Regions from separate parts of the Homo sapiens genome. Here regions 2 and 3 are each linked to region 1. The links come from fine-mapping of genetic effects on gene expression. A gene starts in region 1. Each other region holds a variant in brackets. All regions are shown on one strand. Distances are from middle to middle.

Region 1 (7,799 bases):
TGGCCCAGTTGACTGGAGGAATGCTCTTTGCCAGCCATGTATGGAGGGGTCTGGTGGAAGTGCTGGAGTGGAGGGCCCTGCAAGGGGAGGAACTGGCTTCTGGGAAGGCTGGTGGTGACCCACAAACACGCCTACTGGCAGTTTATCTCGGATGAACTTATCAGTCCTTTCTTTCTGCCAGAGCTGCCAAACAATCAGCCTTCTGTTAAATCCAGACAAAAGGGACTCCTCCCTTGCCGTGACTTGGCTGGCCCTGCTTGCTAGCCCTCTGCCTCAGGCAGGCCTGTGGGCCTGGCATTTGGGTCAGGAGCCTCCACCCTTGACCAGCACCAGCCCCTGCCCCTCTCTGTCAGGCCTGGAGAGGAATCAGCAGCAGAGGCCTCCCTCCCCTGGGAAGAATCTGAGGATGAGCACTGGTCCTTGACCCTCAGCTTCTCAGAAACACGCCAGGGTAAAAAGCCCTGGAATCCTAGGACCATCAGAAAGTTTGGTCCACGTAATGTCCCTTGGATTTGTTCTAACTAAAATCAAGGTCTTAGTTTAAGTCACATGAGCCCCAAGCAAACACTAGGACATTTGCCTTGGGCTTTGCACAGGGCATGGACCTTTGGAGTAGCAACTTGCTTCCTTCCTTCCAAAACCAAAATTGAGCCTCTGCTATCTGCCACTTGCTGTTAGGTGGTGGTTGCTATGTGGGGCCAAGCAAGTTGGTCTCTAGCATCAAGGGCTCATACTTCAGTGGAGGAGACAAACCTTAATCAGATAATCTTCCTGAATCCTCAGGTTGAGGGTCTATGTGGATGAAACACTGGGGGCTGAAGGCCCAAGAGAGTTGGGGACTGACAGGCCCGAAGATCCTCATTCTTTGCCTCTTGATCAGTCCTCCCCATTCCATACCACATGGGTCCTTTGAGTAGCTGCTCCTGGGAGTAACCCAGGCCTCATTTTTTTTTTTCTTTCTTTCTTTCTTTTTTTTTTTTTGAGACGGAGTCTCACTCTGTTGCCCAGGCTGGAGCGAAGTGGTGCAATCTTAGCTCACTGCAACCTCTGCCTCCTGGGTTCAAGTGATTCTCCTGCTTCAGCCTCCTGAGTAGCTGGGATTACAGGTGTGTACCACCACGCCTGGCTAATTTTCATATTTTTAGTAGAGAAGGGATTTCACCATATTGGTCAGGCTGGTCTGGAACTCCTGACCTCGTGATCCACCCACCTCAGCCTCCCAAAGTGTTGGGATTACAGGCATGAGCCACCGCGCCCAGCCTTTTTATTTTTTCTTGAGTCAGGATCTTACTCTGTCACCTGGCTGGAGTGCAGTGGCATGACTGCAGCTCACTGCAACCTCCACCTCCCAGGCTCAAGTGATCCACCTCAGCCTCCTGAGTATCTGGGACCACAGGTGGGTGCCATATGCCTTGCTAATTTTTTAATTTTTTGTAGAGATGGGGGTCTTGCTAACATGTTGCGCAGTCTGGTCTCAAACTTCTCCCATCCAAGTACTAACCAGGCCCAACCCTGCTTAGCTTCTGAGATCAGACGAGCTTGGGTGCATTCAGGGTGGTATGGCCATGGACAGCTCTTGAACTTCTGAGCTCAAACGATCCAGCTGCCTTAGTTTCCCAAAGTGCTGGGATTACAGGTATGAGCCACTGAGCCTGGCCCAGACCTCATTTTTGGTTCTGCCCTCCAACTGGTTGTGAGCACCAAACCTGGCCTGGAGTGGCCTAGGCTCTGCTGGGGTTTGGAAGGTGAGTTACTGGGGACCTTGTGCTGAACTCTAGAGTAGGCTGTGCAGTTCCCACTGAGGGTAAAGGCTTTGACTCTTAGAACTAAAGAGAGTAACAAGGCCTTAACTTTACAGCCCCTAGCCAGTCTAGGGGACCATGAAGACAGCTATTTCTGTGTCATCTTTGGTATGGACTCCAGTGGGGGCTGGTTGGGTTCTGGTGGGAGGTGGTTAGGCCTCCTAAGTGGCTTGTTCAGGTCTGGTCAGCCAAGCCTCCTGCCGTTTTTTTTTTTGAGGGGGGACAGAGTTTCCCTCTTGTTGCCCAGGCTGGAGTGCAGTGGTGTGAACTCGGCTCACTGCAACCTCCGCCTCCCTGGTTCAAGCAATTCTCCTGTCTCAGCCTCCCGAGTAGCTAGGATTACAGGCATATGCCACAACGCCCGGCTAATTTTTTTTGTATTTTTAGTAGAGACGGGGTTTCACCGTGTTAGCCAGGATTGTCTCGATCTTCTGACCTCGTGATCCACCCGCCTTGGCCTCCCGAAGTGCTGGGATTACAGGCGTGAGCCACCACGCCTGGCCTCTTTCTTTTTTTTTGAGACAGGGTCTCATTCTGTTGCCCAGGCTGGAGTGCAGTGGTGTGATCATGGCTCACTGCAGTTTTAATCTCCAAAGCTCAAGCACCTGGCTAATTTAAAAAATTTTTTTGTAGAGATGCTGTCTCACTATATAGTCCAGACTGGTCTTGAATCATGGGCTCAAGAGATCCACCCTCCTTGGCCTCCCAAAGTGCTGGAATTACAGACCTGAGATGTAAAACTATATAGTCAGACACTAAAATATGCAGCAGAACGTATGGCTGCAAAGCAGTGCACGGTGGTGGGGTAGGTGGTGCACTCTCAGAGCCAAAGGAGTGAATGAGAGAATAGAATATATTTTGCTTAGAAACCCAAATAAATAATTTTCTGCATGGTTAGCCCCCCCTTTTTTTTTTTTGGAGACAGGGTCTCCCTCTATTGCATAGGCTGGAGTGCAGTGGTGTGAACACCCGCTCACTGCAGTCTCAACCTCCTGGTCTCAAGCAATCCTCCCACCTCAGCCTCCCAGGTAGCTGGGAGCACAGGTCATGTGCCACCCCGCTTGGCCAATTTTATTTTTAATTTTTATTTTTTGAGACAGAGTCTTGTTCTGTTGCCCAGGTGGAGTTCAGTGGCATGATCTCGGCTCACTGCAACGTCTGCCTCCTGGGTTCACGTGATTCTCCTGTCTCCGCCTCCCGAGTAGCTGGGACTACAGGCGTCTGCCACCATGCCCGGCTATTTTTTGTATTTTTAGTAGAGACGGGGTTTCACGTTGTTGGTCAGGCTGGTCTCAAACTCCTGACCTCAGGTGATCCACCCGCCTTGGCCTCCCAAAGTGCTGGGATTACAGGTGTGAGCCACCGCGGCTGGTCAAAATTTTTTTTTTTTGGTACTTTTTTTGCAGAGGCGGGGTTTCGACACGTTGCCCAGGCTGGTCTTGAACTCCTGAGCTCAAGCTATCCATCCACCTGCCTCGGCCTCCCATAGTGCTGGGACTACAGGCGGGAGCACAGCACCTAGCCCCTTCCTTTTCTTGTCTCTGTGAATGAGGTTTGGAGCCGAGACACTGAAGTATAGATAATTGCAAAAAGGTATGTTTTTGGGAGATGGGGCATTCCTTTCTTATCTCTGCAACTTGCATCTCCCAGACGCTCCTGAGGAGGGAGGGAAAGCCAGGGAGCCCCAGAGCTCTCCGGGATCCAGGGAGGAAACCATGGCTGGTGGCAGCCAGTTCTGTGTTCAGAATGTGCTTGCTGTCAAGAGTGCAGGCCTGGAATTCCAGCCTGGCCACAGGCCAAGGAGGGAATGGACCCATCCTGCGCATGGTGTGGGGATGAGAAGCAGAGCCCACCACGGGTCTCATTCCCAGACCCATCCGGTAACTGTCAGTTTCAGTAACTGTGAAGTCTGGGGCTTTTGGGGTGGGGGGCTGCAGGTTAAGTCCTGGGGAGAGCTAGAGCTACCTTAGGACCCTCCCCTTGAATGTTCCAGGCAGCAACCCCCCTCTCTTATTTCTTCCCCCACCAAAAGAATGCAGGCCACTAGGAGTGAGTGACCAGCGCCTGCGAGTTAGAGCTATTTTGGGCAGGAGAGCAGGCGTCGGATTCCAGTGTTCCAGGCAGGGGGAGGGGACGAGGGTTAGGCCTGAGGCGCTTTCCGACTCCCCAGCCTGCTGTGGGCGAGGCTCTAGGAGATGAGCTAGCTTCCCGCTCCTCCTGTCCCTGGCCTCAGTCTCCCATCCGTGTAAGGGCCGGGCAGCAAGGCTTTCATCCTTTGCAATTGAGAGAACGCTTCCTGATTGTTCTCATGGCTTAGAAATACCCCTTGATTTGCATTCGAAGGAAATAAGGAGGGCTGAACGCAGTCGACGGGTGGCCAGTTGCTGGGCCAGTTCGCAGTCCTGACTGTCCCTTGATTAGTCTTAGAGGCCCAAAGGCCTGAAGTTGGGCGGGGAGCCCCTCCCCCACACTACTGGTTCTGAAGGCTCCGAGTGACCGGGACCGACCGCCGGGGTGTGTCCCGGGACGGACTTCCCTGGCCGTGGGGGCGAGGCTTCCATAATGGGGCGTGACTTTTAGGGCGGGGGAGTGGCTAGCCAATGAGCAGAGAGGTGCTGGCCGGGGCGGGGCTTGCGCGCGGGTGCGGCGCGCTGCGGAGCGGCCGACGCAGGCAGAAGCCGGCGGCGCGCGGACAGCCAGTCGGCGCCGCGCGGAGCTGGCCGCTGGATTGGCTGCAACACTCGCGTGTCAGGCGGTTGCTAGGCTCCGGCCGCGCGCCCCGCCCTTGCGCTCAGCGCCCTCTCACCGCCCGGTACGTGCTCGCGCGAAGGCTGCGGCGCGGCGCTCGCGCCTCTTAGGCTTGGCGGTGGCGGCGGCGGCAGCTTCGCGCCGAATCCCCGGGGAGCGGCGGTGGCGGCGTCCTGGGGCCAGGAGGAGCGAACACCTGCCGCGGTCCTCCCGCCGGCGCTGGGTGAGTGCACCGCCCGCCCTATCCGCTGTGCCTGGCTGCTTGGGCCCCCATCCCTGCTGCCGGCTGAGCCTTCCGCGGAACACCTGCTGCTGCTCGCTGTTCGGCCCGGGGCGGGGACACGGCCGCGGACGTCCTTGTGGGTGAGGAGGCGGTGCCGCCCGGGCGGAGCCGCCCCTTTGCTCTGGGTCCCGCAGGCAAAGGCTCGGAGCGTTCGGCTGCAAGGCCCGGGCCGCGCGCCGCGGCGATGGGCCAGGCCTTAGCTCGGCCCGCGCTCCCGGGAACGTGGAGCCTGCGCCTTGGCCGCGGTCGTGAGCCGCCTGCGGGCCGCCTCCCTGGCTTCCAATAGGGGTTGTGGCCCAGTTGGGCCGGATTCCGACTGTGGGGAGTCGAGCCCCGCTAGAGGCAGGGAAGGGCACCGCTGCCGCCACTGCTCTGTCAGAGCTGCTCAGAGCCTTGGTGGGTTCCGTCATCCTTACTTGAGCTCCTTTGGAAGCTTGTTTACTTACTACCTTTTCACTTTGTATTTGGCAGACCTGGTTCACCTGCGAGTGTATTTGGATAGTGTCTCCACAGAAAATGTCGTCTCGGCTTGGAATCTTTTTGCCATAAATTCTAAGTTAGTTTCCTACAAACTCAACTGGTAACTTAAAATGCATCCTTTAATCTCTATAACTTGAAAAGTTCTTATTTTTGTAAATCGAGTTGCTTCAGAATTAGTTTTAATGGTGACGATGAAGTTTTGACTGGTTGAGGCAAGAGCCTGGGACAGCACCTTCATAGCGCAGAGTCTAACTTAAGATTCTAGCCTGCTGCTTCCCTAAATAAGCGAGTAGAAGTGACTCCTGGCATAGAAGCCAGACTCCGTGAAGGGAAGGTGGTGTTTATAGGACATAATTCCAGATAAAGAGCTGGATGTGCTTTCAGGTGTTTTGCAAAGTCTGGTGTAGATGGGGTATTGCAGTTTTATCAGGTTCTATGCTTAGTTAAGTTCAGAGACATTATTTTGGAATGTTCCTGTTCTAAAAAAGAATTCAACCGTACTACATTTTGGAGGCATAAAAATCCATAGTTTGAGTATGGAGAAGTTTAGTTGAACTTTTGTGGGTTTTTTTTGCTGTGAACTAAGGAAGAAGAGCTCATGGCCTGTGTCCTGTATTTTGGAGAAATCAGATTTCAGTAGGGAGTTGGATCCATCATGTGAAGACCCTATGGGATATAAAAGCTTGTGCTGACATGTGCTTTTGTTAAAAGAGGCACAGTGCAAATCCTCACTGTTCTTAAAAATTGATTTTGCAAAATGCATTTATTCATTTGAACAAATATTTTGATTCACTACCTGCCAAATTCTGTGGTAGATCCTAGGGACCCATGTAAAAGAGTCTGCTTCTGCCCTTAAGGAATTCAGTTTAGGGGGCAGTGGGGACCAGGGAACCCATGATTAATAGTGTCTGCCCGCTAAGCGTGCTCACATAGTAGCCTGAGGAGAGAGGGAATTCCTGAGCTGTGGTTTTCAGGGCCAGCAGGAATTAGTGGGGGACATCAAGGCCTGGACACAGGGAACCACATGTACATGAGCACCTAAAATAGTGCTTGGGAGTCCTCCAGCTTGGCAGGTGCGAGCTCTGGGCCTGCCTTGTGCTCAGGAGTTCCAACTTTGTATGCGGGGTGCAGGAGTCTGGGGAGCCTTTTAATCAGTAGAGTGGTGTGACCCAGACCTGTGTTTAGAAAGATATTGCTGGTGGAGTGGCAGGAAGAGGGAGGGGGTCAGGACCTCTGGCAGTTAAGTCAGCTAACAGAGGAGAGGTGGGGAGGGAGAAGGAGCCATCAGAAAAGAGAGACTGAAAAGGTAGTACAGAGGGGATGTCCTGCCATGATGGGGGAGGAGCTACATTCTGGAATGCATGGGCCAGAAGACCAAGCATAACCAAGGATTTAAATTCCTTGTTGACTACCTGGTATAGTGACCTACAGAGTTGCTTGTGTCTGGTTAGTGTTGAGGATGGTGGGATTTGGAGGGACCACTTAGGGACCACTTAGACTGCCGTCGATGCATAGGAAAGGAGGCCTGGCATTTGATTATTAAAAACTTTATCGCCGGGCATGGTGGCTCCCACCTGTAATCCCAGCAGTTTGGGAGGCCGAGGCGGGCGGATCACGAGGTCAGGAGATCGAGATCATCCTGGCTAACACGGTGAAACCCCCTCTCTACTAAAAATACAAAAAATTAGCCGGGCGTGGTGGTGGGCACCTGTAGTCCCAGCTACTCAGGAGGCTGAGGCAGGAGAATGGCGTGAACCCGGGAGGCGGAGCTTGCAGTGAGTTGAGATAGAGCCACTGCACTCCAGCCTGGGCCACAGATCGAGACTCCGTCTCAAAAACAAAACAAAAAACAACTTTATCTCCAGGCAGGGCGTGGTGGCTCACGCCTGTAATCCCAGCACTTTGGGATTCTGAGGCAGGTGGATTACCTGAGGTCAGGAGTTCAGGACCAGCCTGGCCGACATGGTGAAACCCCGTCTCTACTAAAAAATACAAAAATTAGCCAGGCATGGTGGCGGGCGCCTTTAATCGCAGCTACTCGGGAGGCTGAGACAGGAGAATCGCTTGAACCCGGGAGGCGGAGGTTGCAGTGAGCTGAAAGCCTGGGTGACAAGAGCAAAACTCGGTCTCAAAAAAAATAAAAAATAAAACAAAACAACTGGCCAGGCGCGGTGGCTCACGCCCGTAATCCCAGCACTTTGGGAGGCTGAGGCGGGTGGATCACGAGGTCAGGAGATCAAGACCATCCTGGCTAACACGGTGAAACCCTGTCTCTACTAAAAATACAAAAAATTAGCCAGGTGGGGTGGCGGGCGCCTGTAGTCCCAGCTACTCATTCTCCTGGAGGCTGAGGCAGGAGAATGGCGTGAACCCGGGAGGCGGAGCTTGCAGTGAGCTGAGATAGCGCCACTGCAGTCCGGCCTGGGCGACAGAGCGAGACTCCGTCTCAAAACAAAAAAAAAACACAAAAAAAACACAAAACTTTA
Region 2 (7,799 bases), 100 kb before region 1:
AAAAATGCTAGACATTTAATGAAACTCACTAGTTTCAAAACCATAAAAAGGAAATATAATCCCTTTCCTTTAAACAGAGAACCAACAGCTTTTTCTCAGTCCAGCCAAGAGTGGTGCTGAGCATCTCTGTAGGTGGGGCCCGAGTAAGGGCTCTGGAGGAGCAAAAGATCCACAACACAAGGTAGTTTCACGGGGGGCACTTCCTGCCCCACAAAGGCAGGCACTTTACAGGACATCTGTCACTGCTGGTAGATGATTCTGACATAGCTTACAGAAGGGGTCCCCATTCTAGGGCAGCAGCTGACCCAGGGTCCACATGTTCTTTTTCTAACTTGTTCATCAACTCTCAGCATAACTTCTACCCTATGGGGTTTACTGGTATTTCAAATGGCTGAAGAGTGACTTTTGGCCGGGAGCGGTGGCTCATGCCTGTAATCCCAGCACTTTGGGAGGCCAAGGTGGGCGGATCATGAGGTCAGGAGATCGAGACCATCCTGGCTAACACAGTGAAACCCCGTCTCTACTAAAAATACAAAAAAAATTAGCCGGGTGTAGTGGTGGGCACCTGTAGTCCCAGCTATTCAGGAGGCTGAGGCAGGAGAATGGTGTGAACCCGGGAGGCAGAGCTTGCCATGAGCTGAGATCGCGCCACTGCACTCCTGGGCGACAGAGCAAGACTCCGTCTCAAATAAAAAAAAGTGACTTTTGAAAATAACCAAAAGAGGCTGGGCGTGGTGACTCATACTTGTAATTCCAGCACTTTTGAGAGGCTAAGGCAAGTAGACAGCTTGGGCCTAGGAGCTCAAGAACAGCCTATGCAACATGGCTAAACCCCATCTCCAGACAGCGTGGTGGCTCGTGCCTGTAATCCCAGCACTTTGGGAGGCTTAGGTGGGTGGATCACCAGAGGTCAGGAGTTCGAGACCAGCCTGGCCAACATGGCGAAACCTCATCTCTACTAAAATTACTAAAATTAGCCGGGCGCAGTGGTGTGCACCTATAGTCCCAGCTACTTGGGAGGCTGAGGCAGAAGAAACACTTGAACCCAGGAGGTGGAGGTTGTGATGAGTCGAGATCGCAATACTACACTCACTCCAGCCTGGGCAACAGAGTGAGACTCTGTATCAAAAAAGTCAAAAACCCCATCTCCACAAAAACATACAAAAACTTAGCAGTTTACAGTGGTACATGTGCCTGCATTCCCACCTACTTGAGAGGCTGAGGTGGGAGGATCACTGGAGTCCAGGATTCAAGGTAGCAGTGAGCTATGATCACGCTACTACTGCACTCCAGCCAGGGTGACAAAGTGAGACTTCATCTCTTAAAAACAAATAAATAGGCTGGGCGCAGTGGCTCACGTCTATAATCCCAAAACTTTGAGAGGCTGAGGCAGGTGGATCGCGTTAGGTCAGGAGTTCGAGACCAGTCTGGCCAACATGGTGAAACCCCATCTCTATTAAAAATACAAAAAGATTGCCAGGCGCAGTGGTTCATGCCTATAATCCCAGCACTGTGAAGGCCGGGGCGGGTGGATCACCTCAGGTCGGGAGTTGGGAGACCAGCATAACCAACATGGAGAAACCCCGTCTCTACTAAAAATACAAAATTAGCTGGGCGTGGTGGCACATGCCTGCAATCCCAGCTACTTGAGAGGCTGAGGCTGGAGAATCGCTTGAACCCGGGAGGCGGAAGTTGCAGTGAGCCGAGATCGTGCCATTGCACTCCAGCCTGGGCAACAAGAGCGAAACTCCGTCTCAAAAACAACAAAACAAAACAAAAAAATTAACTGGGCATGGTGGTGCACACCTGTAATCCCAGCTACTAGGGAGGCTGAGGCAGGGAAATTCCTTGAACCAGGGAGGTGGAGGTTGCAGTGAGCCAAGATCGTGCCACTGCCCTCCAGCCTGGGCGACAGAGCGAGACTCCGTCTCAAAATAAATAAATAAATAAATAAATAAAAATAAATAGACCAGGTGCAGTGGCTCATCAGGCCTGTAATCTCAGCACTTTGGGAGGCCGAGGCAGGTGGATCAGGAGTTTGAGACCAGTCTGGCCAACATGTTGAAACCCTGTCTCTACTAATAATACAAAAATTAGTCAGGCATGGTGGTGCATGCCTGTAATCCCAGCTACTTGGGAGGCTGAGGCAGAAGAAGTGCTTGAACCCGGGAGGCGGAGTGCAGTGAGCTGAGATCGCACCATTGCACTCCAGCCTGCGTGACAAGAGCAAAAGTCTGTCTCAAAAAAACAAAAATAAAAATAAATAAAACAAAACAGCATACAACCATGACCCACCTCTACAAATGTTATTTGTAATATTTACTGTTACTGGGTTTACTGTTGTTATTTTCTGATTTACTTTTTTGGGGGCATTGAGGGGAGCCTATTCTGTCTTCCCTCATCTAGAACAGAAGTTTTTTTTTTTTTTTTTTAGATGGACTCTTGCTCTGTCGCCCAGGCTGGAGCGCAGTGGCGCAATCTCAGCTCACTACAACCTCTGCCTCCCGGGTTCAAGCAATTCTCCTGCCTCAGCCTCCCGAGTAGCTGGGATTACAGGCACTCGCCACCACGCCCGGATGATTTTTTTGTATTTTTAGTAGAGACAGGGATTCACCATGTTGGACAGGCTGGTCTTGAACTCCTGACCTCAGGATCCACCCACCTTGGCCTCCCAAAGTGGTGGGATTACAGGTGTGAGCCACAGTGCCTGGCCTAGAATAGATGTTCTGTTAGTAGGTGCTGTAGTTATTTCCTGAATATGTGAAATTATACCAATAGTCTACCCCCTTCCTGGAGTTTGAGGTACATAGAATTTGAATAAATTGACTGTCGCCACTTTTGGTGAATAAATTTTCAAACTTTTTTTTTTTTTTTTTTTGAGACAAGAGTCTCACTCTGTCACCTAGGCTGGAGTGCAGTGATGCGATCTCGGCTCACTGCAACCTCTGCCTCCCAGGTTCAAGCAATTCTCCTGCCTCAGCCTCCTGAGTAGCTGGGATTACAGGTACATGCCACCATACTTGGCTAAGTTTTGTATTTTTAGTAGCGACAGGATTTCACCATGTTGGCCAGGCTGGTCTCGAACTCCTGACCTCAGGTGATCCGCCTACCTCAGCCTCCCGAAGTGCTGGGATTACAGGCGTGAGCCACCATGCCCGGCCTAAAAAATATAAAAATTAACCAAGCGCAGCAGTGTGTGCCTGTAGTACCAACTACTGGGTGGGGACTGAGATGGGAGGATTGTTTGAGCCCAGGAGGTCGAGGCAGCAGTAAACTGAATCTGCAACTGCACTCAAGACTGGGCAAGAAAGCGAGACCCTGTCTCAAAAAGAAAAAAGTGAGACTGAAGAGACAAAATGTTTTGCTCTGGAGGCAGTTTTTTCCCTCAAGAATTATACACTAGATAACGAGGGCAAAGGCACACAGTCCTTCTCATTCCAATAGGATCTAGGTGAAGTTATTTATGTGTGTATCTGATAGGAGAGTGTCAACTAGCTCAAATTTTCTCTGTGGCCTAAAGCTCTGCCCAGCCTCCAGGGCCTTCCAGCAGCTTCACAAAAGGAAGTCATATTAGTTTGAAAACCAAAACTAGGCTGGGTGTGGTGGCTCACACCTGTAATCCCAGCACTTTGGGAGGCCAAGGTGAGTGGATCACCAGAGGTCAGAAGTTTGAGAGAAGCCTGGCCAACACGGAGAAACCCGGTCTCTACTAAAAATACAAAAATCACCCAGGCGT[G/A]GGGGCGTATGCCTGTAGTCCAAGCTACTTGGGAGGCTGAGACAGGAGATTTGCTTGAACCTGGAAGGCGGAGGTTGCAGTGAGCCAAGATTGTGCCACTCAACTCCAGCCTGGGCAACAGAGCGAGACCCCGCCTCTAAATCAATCAATCAATCATAACTGCTGAAAATGATCTAAGTGAACCAACGGCATGGAATACGTGCTCTTTCTCTGTCCTGGGACATACTGCACAGAGGACTCAATCTTAGCTCAGCTCCTTGGGCCAGCATGACCTTAAACAAGTGGCTCAATATCTTGGAGCAACCCCAGTTATCATCATTAAGGTAGGGACAACCATAACAACACAATCACTCTAACACTAACTATCCAGGCAACCCGAGGCCACAAGCAGACCCTCAAAGGCTGTTTGTGGTAATGACGACAACATCCTTGACCCACCTGCTGCCCTGTCATGACAGGGAGGGCTGCAGCACAAGTTTATTAATAGATACCTCATCATCTTCAGCACAAACCTAAAGCAAGTTTTTTCAAGCCTGGTTTCACAGAATGTCAGGTTAGCATTCTTCAGTCTTTTTCTAAAGAATACTGACTTCTGGGCCAGGCGCAGTGGCTCACGCCTGTAATCCCAGCACTTTGGGAGGCCGAGGCAGGCGGATCACGAGGTCAGGAGATCAAGATCATCCTGGCTAACGTGGTGAAATCCCATCTCTACTAAAAAATACAAAAAATTAGCCGGGCGTGGTGGTGGCCACCTGTAGTCCCAGCTACTTGGGTGGCTGAGGCAGGAGAATGGCATCAACCCAGGAGGCAGAGCTTGCAGTGAGCTGAGATCAAGCTGCTGCAATCCAGCCTGGGAGACAGAGCAAGACTCCCTCTCAAAAAAAAAAAAAAAAAAAAAAAAGAATACTGACTTACTGACTTCTGAATTATGTGGCTGTGTTTAGGCTAATGAAATGATCACATTCAAGCTTCTATCAGCTAAGACACTTCAGAAAAAGGCTAAGACAGGGCAACCAAAAAAAAGAAAGTCTTTCCCCAAAAGAGATGGCTTTACATTTGGAACTCATCTAGTTTGCTCATCTTTTTTTTTGGGAGATGGAGTCTGCAGTACAGTGGCATGATCTTGGCTCACTGCAACTTCTGCTTCCCAGGCTCAAGTGATTCTCCTGCCTCAGCCCCTGGAATAGCTGGGATTACAAGTGCACGCCACCACACCCAGCTAATTTTTGTATTTTAGTAGAGACAAGGGGTTCACCATGTTGCCTAGGCTGGTCTCAAACTCCTGACCTCAGGTGATCTGCCAGCCTCGGCCTCCCAAAGTGCTAGGATTACAGGTGTCAGCCGCCGCACCAGCCTTAGTTTACTCATCTTTGTATCTGGAATTCATCTAGTTTACAAGGCAGTTAGATTTTTAAATAACATTTAATATTATTTAGTAATAATAATAATAATTATTATTTTTGAGATAGAGTCTTGCTCTGTTGCTCAGTCTGGAATGCAGTGCCATAATCTCGGCTCACTGCAATCTCCACCTACCAGGTTCAAACGATTCTCCTGCCTCAGCCTCCCAAGTACCTGGGACTACAGGCGTGCACCACCATGCCTGGCTAATTTTTTTGTACTTTTAGTAAAGACGGGGTTTCACCATGTTGGCCAGGCTGGTCTTGAACTCCTGACCCTCAGGTGATCCACCCGTCTGGACCTCCCAAAGCGCAGGGATTATAGGTGTCAGGCACCGTGCCCTGCCTAGGTGGATACATTTTAAATACAGTACCCATGGGAGACCTAGGCTGAAAGGGACCCAAGGCCCACGCTCTACAATCCCAAACTCCAGGACTCCGGCCACTGACGATGATTGCTTCTCTGAAGTTCATGTCTGCTTTTCAGCCACTTGATGCCCAGAAACCAGATGCCAACTAGCTACACAGGCAGTGACAAATATCAGGGTGCAGGGCCACTCACCTAAACTATCAGGGCTGTCGATGGAAAAACACATCAGTATAACATCGGTATCTGGGTAGGAGAGGGGCCTCAGGCGATCATAATCTTCCTGCCCAGCTGTGTCCCACAAAGCCAACTCTACCTGTAATGGGAAAAACAACCACAAGAGTGCAAGGTTAATCCCCCCACCCACTTTTAGAAAAAGTGACACTTACCATAGTACATTGAAATGGCAGACCATTGAAATGGCAGACGGTCTAAAACAGTAAAACACAGGAGTATTTACATTTTTTCTTTTTTCTTTTTTTTTTTTTTTTTTGAGATGTAGTCTTGCTCTGTCGCCCAGGCTAGAGTGCAGTGGCGCGATCTCTGCTCCCTGCAAGCTCCGTCTCCCGGGTTCACACCATTCTCCTGCCTTGGCCTCCCAAGTAGCTGGGACTACAGGTGCCCGCCATCACACCCGGCTAATTTTTTGTATTTTTAGTAGAGACGGGGTTTCACTGTGTTAGCCAGGATGGTCTGGATCTCCTGACCTCATGATCCGTCCGCCTCGGCCTCCCAAAGTGTTGGGATTGCAGGCGTGACCCACCGCGCCTGGCCTTTTTTTTTTTTTTTTTTTTTTTTTTTTTTTTTGTTGAGACGGAGTCTTACTCTGTTGCTCAGACTGGAGTTCAGTGGCAAGATCTTGGCTCACTGCAAGCTCTGCCCCCGGGTTCATGCCATTCTCCTGCCTCAGCCTCCTGAGCAGCTGGGACTACAGGCGCCCGCCACCACGCTTGGCTAATTTTTCGTACTTTTAGTAGAGACGGGGTTTCACCATGTTAGCCAGGATGGTCTTGATCTCCTGACCTCGTGATCCGCCTGCCTCGGCCTCCCAAAGTGCTGGGATTACAGGCATGAGCCACCACACCCGGCCGAGTATTCACTTTTATGAGCATCAAGCTCAAATGAGAGTATATTTAAATTATTTTAGGTTGAAATTTCTCAAAATTGAAAATCTGAGAACCCACCTCTACAAAAACACCTTAAAAATTAGCTGAGTGTGGCCAGGCGCGGTGGCTCATGCCTGTAATCCTAGCACTTTGGGAGGCTGAGGCGGGCTGACTGCCTGAGCTCAGGAGTTCGAGACCAGCCTGGGCAACATGGTGAAACCCCGTCCCTACTAAAATACGAAAGAAATTAGCCAGGCACGGCAGCGTGCGCCTGTAGTCCCAGCTACTGGAGAGGCTAAGGCAGGTGAATTGCTTGAACTCGAGAGGCAAAGGTTGCAGTGAGCCAAGATCGTGCCACTGCACTCCAGCACTCCAGCATGGGCGACAAAGCGAGCCTCCATCTCTAAAAAAAAAAAAAATAAATAAAATAAAACTTAGCTGAGTGTGGGCTGGGTGCGGTGGCTCACGCCTGTAATCCCAGCACTTTGGGAGGCCAAGGCGGGCGGATCACCTGAAGTCGGAAGTTCGAGACTAGCCTGACAAATGTGGAGAAACCCCATCTCTACTGAAAATACAAAATTAGCTGGGCGTGGTGAAGCATGCCTGTAATCCCAGCTACTCAGGAGGCTGAGGCAGGAGAATCGCTTGAACCCAGGAGGCGGAGGTTGCAATGAGTGGAGGTTGCAATGAGCTGAGATTGCACCACTGCACTCCAGCCTGGCCAACAAGAGCGAAACTCCATTTAAAAAAAAAAAAAAATTAGCTGACTGTGGTGGTGCACGCCTGTAGTCCCAGCTACTTGGGAGACTGAGGTGGGAGGACTGCTTGAGCCCGGGAGGCGGAGGTTGCAGTAAGCAGAGATTGTGCCACTGCACTGCAGCCTAGGCAGTGAGACCTTGACTCAATTAGGAAAAAAACAAAAAAACAAAACAGATACTAGAACTGAACCAAGTGGCATAATTCAAAATGTCAAGTCAAAAATAACTCTGTAGCTTATAAAAGTGTTTAATTATAAATAACATTCTACTAGGAAAGAAAGCAGACAGGAGGGAAGAAATCAAATTTTAAATAACATCCTACCAGGCATACAGGCGAGAGAGGAAGATACAAGACTAAGTAAATTTTCTGCTATAATGTGGAAACCATGGAAACAAATCTGTATTTTGAGTTGGTAGGTAGGAAAAGACACC
Region 3 (7,799 bases), 700 kb after region 1:
CCCAAACCCCTCCCCAGCCCAGGGTCTGGCAGCGAGAGTAGAGTGTCTCCTCCCCCGATAGTGGAAGGGAGGGGTGGCTTGGTCTCCACACCCCTGGGACCTTGCGTCCGCTCTGGGTGTTGTTTTTGTCATCATGCATGCAAGTAAGCAGGAGGGGCAAAACAGAGAGGGGTCTTCCGTGTGCTCCTTCTAAGCCTCCCTGGACCTCCAGGGGCAAAGAGTTTTGTTCCTGTTTTCCAGAGAGAGAAACTGAGGCTCAGGCAAGGGCAGGGTCAAGGTCAGGCAAGAGGCAGAGGCAAAGCCAGAAATAGAACCCTGGTGTCCTGGCCTTGCCGGCGCCCACATCGCGTCAGGTCGATTCCCTCTCAATTAGCTCTGAAGCCGACACCCGCAGTGACTAAAAGCTGAGCTCACTGGCAGCCAGCCTGGGTGTTGCCGGTTGTGGCGGCCTGGGGTGGGGCTGCAGCGCACCTGGGGCCACCCATCCCAGGGCTCCTGTGCCTTTGCACAGGCAGGTTCCCCTGCCCTGAATGACCTTCCCTGTTCCGACCTGGTCTCGTGTCCTAATTTTGTGCTTAGACTTCACTTACTACTGTATGACAGGCCCCGTGCTGAGTGCTGGGGACTCTGTGGTGAACAAGATAGGGTGCTCACAGTCAAGCTGGTGGAAAAAGCAATGGATATCCAGTTGGTCAGGGCCATCTGGGAGCCCAGCACCTGCTGTGTACCAGGCCCTGTGTATCCCCCTACACTGGGTGGTCTCAGCCTGGTTATGCACACATGAAGTGGCCCTCAGTGAGGAGCAGGCGCCCACCAAGTGTGTGTGGAGTGAGAATGGAGACCAACACTTCAAGAAACTGGGCTCCCACCATCTTCCTCCCAGAGTACACGTGGGTGGCACAGAGAAGGTTACTCTCAGAAGCACTGCTGGTCACTGTGGCTCCATGTCATAGTTTTTTCATCTGTGCCTTGGATGGACACAGCAGTTGACACCCCAGGCCTCAGGGGCTCAGGCTGGGCACTCCCTGCCCTGCCCTGCCCTGGGTCCTGCTGTAGTGGGGAGGTGCCGGTTCCTGCCTGGGTAGGGCTGGACCCTCCAAGCTAGAGGTGCTGGCATAAGGGGCCACACTGCCCAGGGTAGATAAAGGAACAAAGGCAGGAACTGGGCCAGGCTTGGGTTTGCTGCCCGCCCATCCGCCTGGGCACCCCAGCCAGGTCTAGAGCCAGAAGGGTGTGAGGGTCAAGCAGCCCAGGGTTCCCTCAGATTAGGGGGGCTCCTATGGCCCAGCTTCTGGGCTTCAGCAGCACAGCCAAAATCAGGCAGAAGTGAGGGTCAAATGGAGATTTCCAGGAGCAGGTGAGGTGTTTGTTCATTCCTTGCTCTTGAGAGAGTGGAGCCTGGGCTGGAAGCCTGGACAGACCCTCCTTCCTTCACCCATCCATGCCTGGGCCTGGAGTCCCCTACACTGCAGAATCACTGCCAAATCTCAGAGAAAAAGCTCTTCCTTCCCCCACCTTGAGATGACCCAGGCTCTGGGGCACCACCTCCCTCCGTGGCAGCAGCAGGGAGGTGTGAGGGCCCTGCCAGGCCCTTTGTTCAGCCTGGGGAGTGTTTACTTTTTCCCAGGAAGCTACCCCACGACACACTGCTGCTGCCTGGGCTGGGTTTGGCCAGGGATTGGGGCCAAGAGATGTTTGGTGGGGTAGAAGGACCCTGTGATGACATGAGACAGTTGTGCTGCTAGGGAAGCTGAGGCAGAAGTAGGGAGAGGGAGCAGAAGGTCACCCTGCCAGGGGAGGTCAGGAAAGATGAACATAATCGAAATAGTAGTAGGAGCCCATGAGGATAACCAAGCAATGGTCCCTCCAAGACCTAAAGAGGGTCTGCCTAGGTTTCCTGTGAGGAAGGAGGCTTACGGGGGCTGAGCGGCTTCCCAGGTCACTCAGGAGCAGGACTGAGATGGAGCCTGCATCCGCCTGATGCCTGAGGCTGTCCCAGGACTGAGAGTGGAGGGCAGGGATGGTGGTGGTGCTGGAGGCACAGACCCTTCACATGAGCTAGGAACAAGGAAGATTCCAGCATTCTGCAGTGCTGGTTTAGGCTTCCTAGCCTCGTTTCCCAAAGAAAGGGCTGGGGTCGCACTGGGCAGGCTCCCCATGCCCTCTGTCTGCCGAAGCAACGGAATTGGGGTTTGCTTATTTCCAGGCTATAAATCCGGCCCTCCATCACTCTGGCCCTTCCACTGAGCAGGGTCCCTAGGAAGGCCTCTCATGTCAGAGATGGGAACATCAGGGCCTAAGAGAGGAAAGGGCTCCTGTTCCAGAGCAGCCTGGAGTTTGAGCCCTCCAGGCCAATAGCCCAGAACAGTGCCACCGCTCACATCATTTGCATGTGGCATCAGAGGACCAAGGTTGCCAGGTTTGGAGATGATGAGGTTAGAGGTTAGGAAGGGTCACAGCCCGTTGACTTCCCCTCAGGAGTTGATGTGAGTTGAGGTGCCTCTAGCAAGCCTTGATGGGGCCTTAGCCCTCAGGCCTGGTGCAGGAGTAGGGGTGGGGCTGGAGAGCTAGAGGACATGCTCTTGCCCCCCAGGGGCTCCTTGGCCAGCCAGAGCAAGGCATGGGGCTTTGGTGGGGGAGGAGGGGGAGGAGGCCCAGGAGCTTTGAGGCCAGTGTGGCACCAGGGAGCTGGGCAAGGGTCAGGTGGCTCTGGCAGCTACAGTGGGGGTTGGAGCTCACAAGCCAGGGAGGGTAGGTGTTCCAGGATACGCCAGGATGAGGGAGGAAGGAAGACCCAAAGCATGAACTTGAGCCCAGATCCCTTGAGGCCAGATCTGGAGTTTCAGTTTTCTGGAAATGGGAGCTGCCTTACTCCTGAGAGACTTGGAAGTGGCCGCTTTGGAGTTGGGAGGTCCTGGAAGCTGCACATCCCCCAACTGGCTAGGAATTGGTCTTTGGAGAGAATGGAGACAGGGTCCTTGTGCTTGCTGGAGAACCTGCCTGACGCCCAGCCTGGGTCAGCCAGGCCAGGGGCTGGGGCTTTCAGCTGTGGCCTTCCAGGTCAAGTGGAGCTTCAGATGGGACCTCCACTGTCTGGGCCTCCGCAGCACAGGCCTTGTCTCTGGTTCCCTGGCATGATGCCCGCCCCTCCTTCCCTGGCTCCAGCTTCCCTTGGCACTAAGTGAGGAGCTGGTGCATGCTCAAGGAGTAAATCATGTTCCTTGGCAGCCCCCACTGCTTCGTAATCGTAAAGAATTTAAAGAGAAACCGCCAAGATAAAAATCTCACCAGCCCATAAAGGCATCTTTCACCCTGCAGCTTGGGAGACAGTGAGCCTCAGAGTGGGCTCTTGGCTGTCTGCACCTGTGTGTATGCACCTCCGGCCCCTTGACTCCTCCAGAGGTGGTAATAGCTCAGAAGGTGGCTTTAGGGCCATGGGTACCTGGTCCTTGACTCCTGGGAGACCTCCATCTCCTCACTCAGGAGAGTGGGGTGCTTAAATTTGGTGTAATGCAGAAGTGGTGATGGTGGTGGCTGAGCTAGCTGGTCCCAAAGGCAAAACCCAGTTCTACCAGTGTTAGCTGTGTGAGTTCAGCCAAGTGGCTTAGCCTCTCTGAGCCCTGGTTTCTCCTGTGTAAGGTGGGAATGGCAGTGGCCCTGTGGAAGCAGCATCATGAGGGCTCAGACTGTCTTGCTTGCATCCTGGCCATGGGTGGATCTTGCTTGGTGAACATCATTCTGTGTTCCCACTGCCTTTTCTGGAAAATGGGAGTAAGAACAATACTGGCCTCGTTGTGTTGTCAGGAGGATTAACTGTGTGAGTATGGTCACTGTGGAAGAAATCTCAGTCACCAGGAGCGATCCTGAGGCTGGTGTGCAGGTGAGGGCAGGTCCAGGGGCATGCCCCAAGGAGTCCCAGACTGCCTCACCCCTTCCTCCAGAATTCTAACTTTTGGTAAGGGAGATGGTATTTGGAAAGGACTCCAGGAAGGACCCTGAGTCCTGTGGGGTGGGTGGAGTAGGGTCAGGAGGAGGAAAATTCCTACCATGGGTATCTGGGCAGGCTTCATGGAGGAGGCTGCATCTTGAGCAGGGGAGGGGAGGTTGTAGGGGAGGGAAGAGCTGGAGCACAGGGAGGGTGCATGTGGTGCAGCACCTGGGGAAGAGGACAGATGCTAGATGCAGTCTTGCTTTTGGGACAAGGATGTAGAGTTCTACTTTCT[G/A]TTTCTGGTTTTTAAGCTCTTTTTCCTCATGGCAGAGGTACTAAATATGTATTATGGAAAAATTCCAGTGATACGGATGCATTTGGCGGGAGTGATGCCTTGGAAGTAGCTCCCTAGAGACTGGCTCCAAGGCCTGGTTGGGACGCACAGTTGGCTGCAATAACTCCTTCTGTGAATGCTGCTCCAGCTCCTGCCGTGTGTCCTAGGGGTGACCAGACCTGGGCTGCTCACTCAGGCATCTGCAGGGCTGGGCAGAAAGCATGTTTGCCTGGCTTGGCCTGGTGCTATCCTGGGAATCTGAGCCCCGCCTCAAGAAGCCCTGGGAGCTTTGGAGAAGCAGAGAGGATTCCTGCTGCATTTTTCTTAGAAATAGCAAGAGGGCCTTTGCCAGAGGCCTGGATGCCAGAAGGCTATGGTCTGAATCCAAAGCCTAGCTCACGTGGGTGCCAGAGCTTGGCAGGCCTACAGCCCCCCACCCAGCCTGCTGGGCAGCCCCAGGGAGAGGGTGGAGGCCTCCTGGGCTCCAGTCCCTGACCACTGGTCCTGACCCAGCAACGAATGGGGTCTGGGCAGTGGCTGCTGGCCTAGGATTGGGGGGCTAGCCTGTTGGGGAGGGAGTGGGGCTCATCGGGCTGACGGGCTGGGCTGACTTCTGGCACTCTCACTGGGCCGAGGGGAGCACTGGCTATCTGGTGCATCTCTGCAGGGCAAAGACAGACCCAAAGCAACCGGCCCCTCCAGGGATCAGGAAGCCTCAGCTCCGGATCCCCCTTCCCCCACTCTTCTTCCTTCCTTCCTCCCCCTACTCCCCCTTGCCTCCACCCCTCCCTTTGCCACCCCTCTTGGCTTCCTACCCGGACATGCTCTTTCCTCGGACGTCTCTGTACCCAGCCAAGAGCCTTGTTCCTTCCCACTTGGGGCTCGGTGCTGATGCCCTCATTTCCCCCGGCCAGAGTCCACTGCCTCGTGTGTCTGCTGTTCAGCCAGCACGGTTGCCTTCTAAGGGTCATACACTACAATTGGCAGAGCGGCTAGAATTTGGGAGCCCTTTGGGCTCCTACAGCTCCAAGGCTGAGTGGCTAGCACTCCAGGGGGCCTCTCCCAGGGCTGCCTGTATTGCCATTTTTATCAGCGCCTTCCTGGCTGGGCCTGGGGCCTGTGCGGAGTGCTCACTGCCTGCCCTTGACTGGCTACCTGCTGAGTCCTGCTGAGGTCCTAACCCAGCCTCACTGCATCCTCCAAGGCTGACCCCAAGCATGCACCTGTCTGCCCTGTGCCTCGGTTTCTCCATCAGAATGTTGGGGAGGGGCTAAGACTGTCTGGAACATCCCGGGAATCTCTGGGTGGGTGTTGTGAAGGGGCTGCAGGGACCGCAGGAATCCGAGGAAGGCCGCAGAGATGGGGGCTGGGCCCAGGGGAGGGGGAGGGTTTTGACACCCACCAGCCTGTTGGTCCCATCTTGGCCTGTCTGTCTGGGTGATTTATCAGAGTAAATGAGCCATGGAGAGTTTGTTGTCTTTTGCAGTCATGGGGAGGAGGAGGTGGTGGAGGAAGGAGTGAGGGGTTTCCGGGCCAGGTCTGGAATGTGGGAGGAGGAGGTGGGTCCCCCGGGGGCCTCTGAAACTGGAGGCACTCACTGAATGGCCTTTTCACTCTCCCCACCTGAGAAATGAATCAGTGCAGCCCTCCCCTTCAGAACAATCCCCTCTTTCCATCCCCTTCATACTTCTTGGGGCACATTCCTGTGTGATCTGCTTGTCTGGTCATCTTCTCCCACCCCCTGCTCAGGACCAGGTCTCTTGACCACAGTGTCCTTCCAAAGCTGAGCCGGAGCCCTGACTTGCCCAGCTGGTGAATGCCCAAATGTGTTCTCACAGGCAACCATGCACACTGTTAAGTTCCAAGTGGGACGTCTAGGCCTCTGGAACTACCAGCCCAGGCCTAGGATGGTCAGGTGCATGGACCATGGGGAAGGCAGGGGTCAGTGGAGGTGCCGAGGCCGGAGAGACCCCATCTGCTGGGACAGAAGGTCCGAAGTCATTGGGTGTCCTTCGGGGATGAGGCATGGATCCCCTGGTTCCCGGCTGGCGAGTCAGGGAGTGATCCTGCTGCTCCGTCACTTCTGGCTTTTCCTGGTTTGAGGCTGAGCTGTGCCCTCAGCCTATCCTGTCCTGGGCGGAGTAGGTGAGCACTGGGGCGGAACGGGCGTGGGAACAGCATGCCTGGACCTGCTGGCCCCAGCCCCCTGCCCCCTGCCCCCAGCCTTTAGTCACTGAAATGGGAGGGAAGTGTACAGTGGCGTTTTGGCCCAGCTGGGCTCTTTACCCCTGTACGGTGTTTACTGAACAGCTGGGATGTTTACAGTAGCCCTTGCAAAGGGGCCCCTCGTTGCAGGGGATTTCCCATCTTGAGGGTCCCACTGGGGCTCTTCTGACCTCACCAATTCCCTGCACCCCTGGGATAGATGTGTCAGGGATACAGAGACCATAACCATCTCCACCTTACCAGAGCCAGTGGTGCCTGTCCCCTTGGCCTCTGGCCTTCGGTTCCTCTGCTCTGGAGGAGCCAACATTTCCCACCACATTTCCTAGAGTGGCAGCTCTAGGTGGTGAAATACGGTAACTGGGTCCCCAGTTCAGACATTTAAATTAAATTCAATCAGAGCGGTTATTGAATAAAAACACGCGGAGTCATTTACATGTTAATTATGTTGAATGGACTACTAGACCATAATTAGTTGCTAATTGGGTGAGAGTGGCTGTAATTGGTTTTGTTGGCACCAACCTGGCTCACCTACCTGGGGGGAAGCGGGGGTTGGTGTGGATGGCTCCTAGGGAGGCCCTCTGGGTCTCCAATCTGGAAGGCCTGGCTAGAGATGCTATGCGGGGGCAGATCTCCAGGGGCTTAGGGTCAGAGGAACCTGGAACCTCTCCCCAGGGAGGGTGCAGCTGGGGTCTGGCTTCTAGGGTTCCCATCCAGAGCATAGGGGGAAAAGGGGGAACTGGAGGAGCTACCCCAGATCAGCAGTGATAGTCTCCCCTGCCCAGCCCCATGTGGGACCTGGGCTTGAACAAATGGTAAGTGCCCAAGAGTGGGTCTGTGGGAGCCCAAGGCAGGCGTCACTCAGGTGTGTCTCTGCACATACTGGGCCCTGGGTTGGCCTGATCAGGGTGGCGTTGGGGTGTAAGTGGGTGTGCCAAGCAGGAGGAAGGTACGTACAAAGGCATCTGGGCCTCCCTGCCCCCCCGCTTAGCTTGGCTGGGGTTCCCGGGGTTGTAGGTCTGTGGCCATGGGCTGAGGCCTTCCGGCTGGCCGCTCATTAAAAGAGGATTAGGCTGAGAGCCAGGGGGCCAGCCCAGTCCCCAGGCCTTCCTCTGGGGCTCCTCACAGCTTTGGGGGAGTGATAAAAGGGCCGGGGCCACCCCTTCCTGGATCCTGTGGGGGTATCCGGTAGGGACCACCTGGGCCCTGCCATGCCTCTTGCCGCCACTGCTACTATAGCCTTGGCTACCTCAGTTTCCCTCCTCAGAAGGTCAGGAGGTCTGTCTTTCCGGTGGGTGAAACACTGACAAAGAC

What was found. PIP is the estimated chance that this variant, and not a neighbour inherited with it, causes the effect. A credible set is the group of variants that fine-mapping cannot tell apart.
Region 2: its variant is the best candidate, but not a certain one, in a credible set for the expression of DAG1 in blood mononuclear cells (TOPMed, PIP 0.74).
Region 3: its variant is the best candidate, but not a certain one, in a credible set for the expression of DAG1 in cerebellar hemisphere (GTEx, PIP 0.81).

Annotation. Positions count from the first base shown.
Region 1 is chr3:49,465,661-49,473,459 of GRCh38, forward strand. DAG1 (dystroglycan 1) reads left to right here and starts at 4,607. Exons shown (of 3, transcript NM_004393.6): 1 at 4,607-4,773. It also overlaps the pseudogene RNA5SP130. RefSeq lists a silencer at 4,286-5,025.
Region 2 is chr3:49,362,730-49,370,528 of GRCh38, forward strand. RHOA (ras homolog family member A) reads right to left here. Exons shown (of 5, transcript NM_001664.4): 3 at 5,699-5,819. Among named protein-coding and RNA genes, the nearest start is that of GPX1, 8.3 kb to the left of the region's middle. The variant G/A (reference allele first, on the strand shown) is at 3,737.
Region 3 is chr3:50,161,089-50,168,887 of GRCh38, forward strand. All of the region lies in intron 2 of SEMA3F (semaphorin 3F), which reads left to right. Among named protein-coding and RNA genes, the nearest start is that of SEMA3F-AS1, 8.9 kb to the left of the region's middle. RefSeq lists enhancers at 5,802-6,416, 6,348-6,642 and a silencer at 6,348-6,642. The variant G/A (reference allele first, on the strand shown) is at 4,224.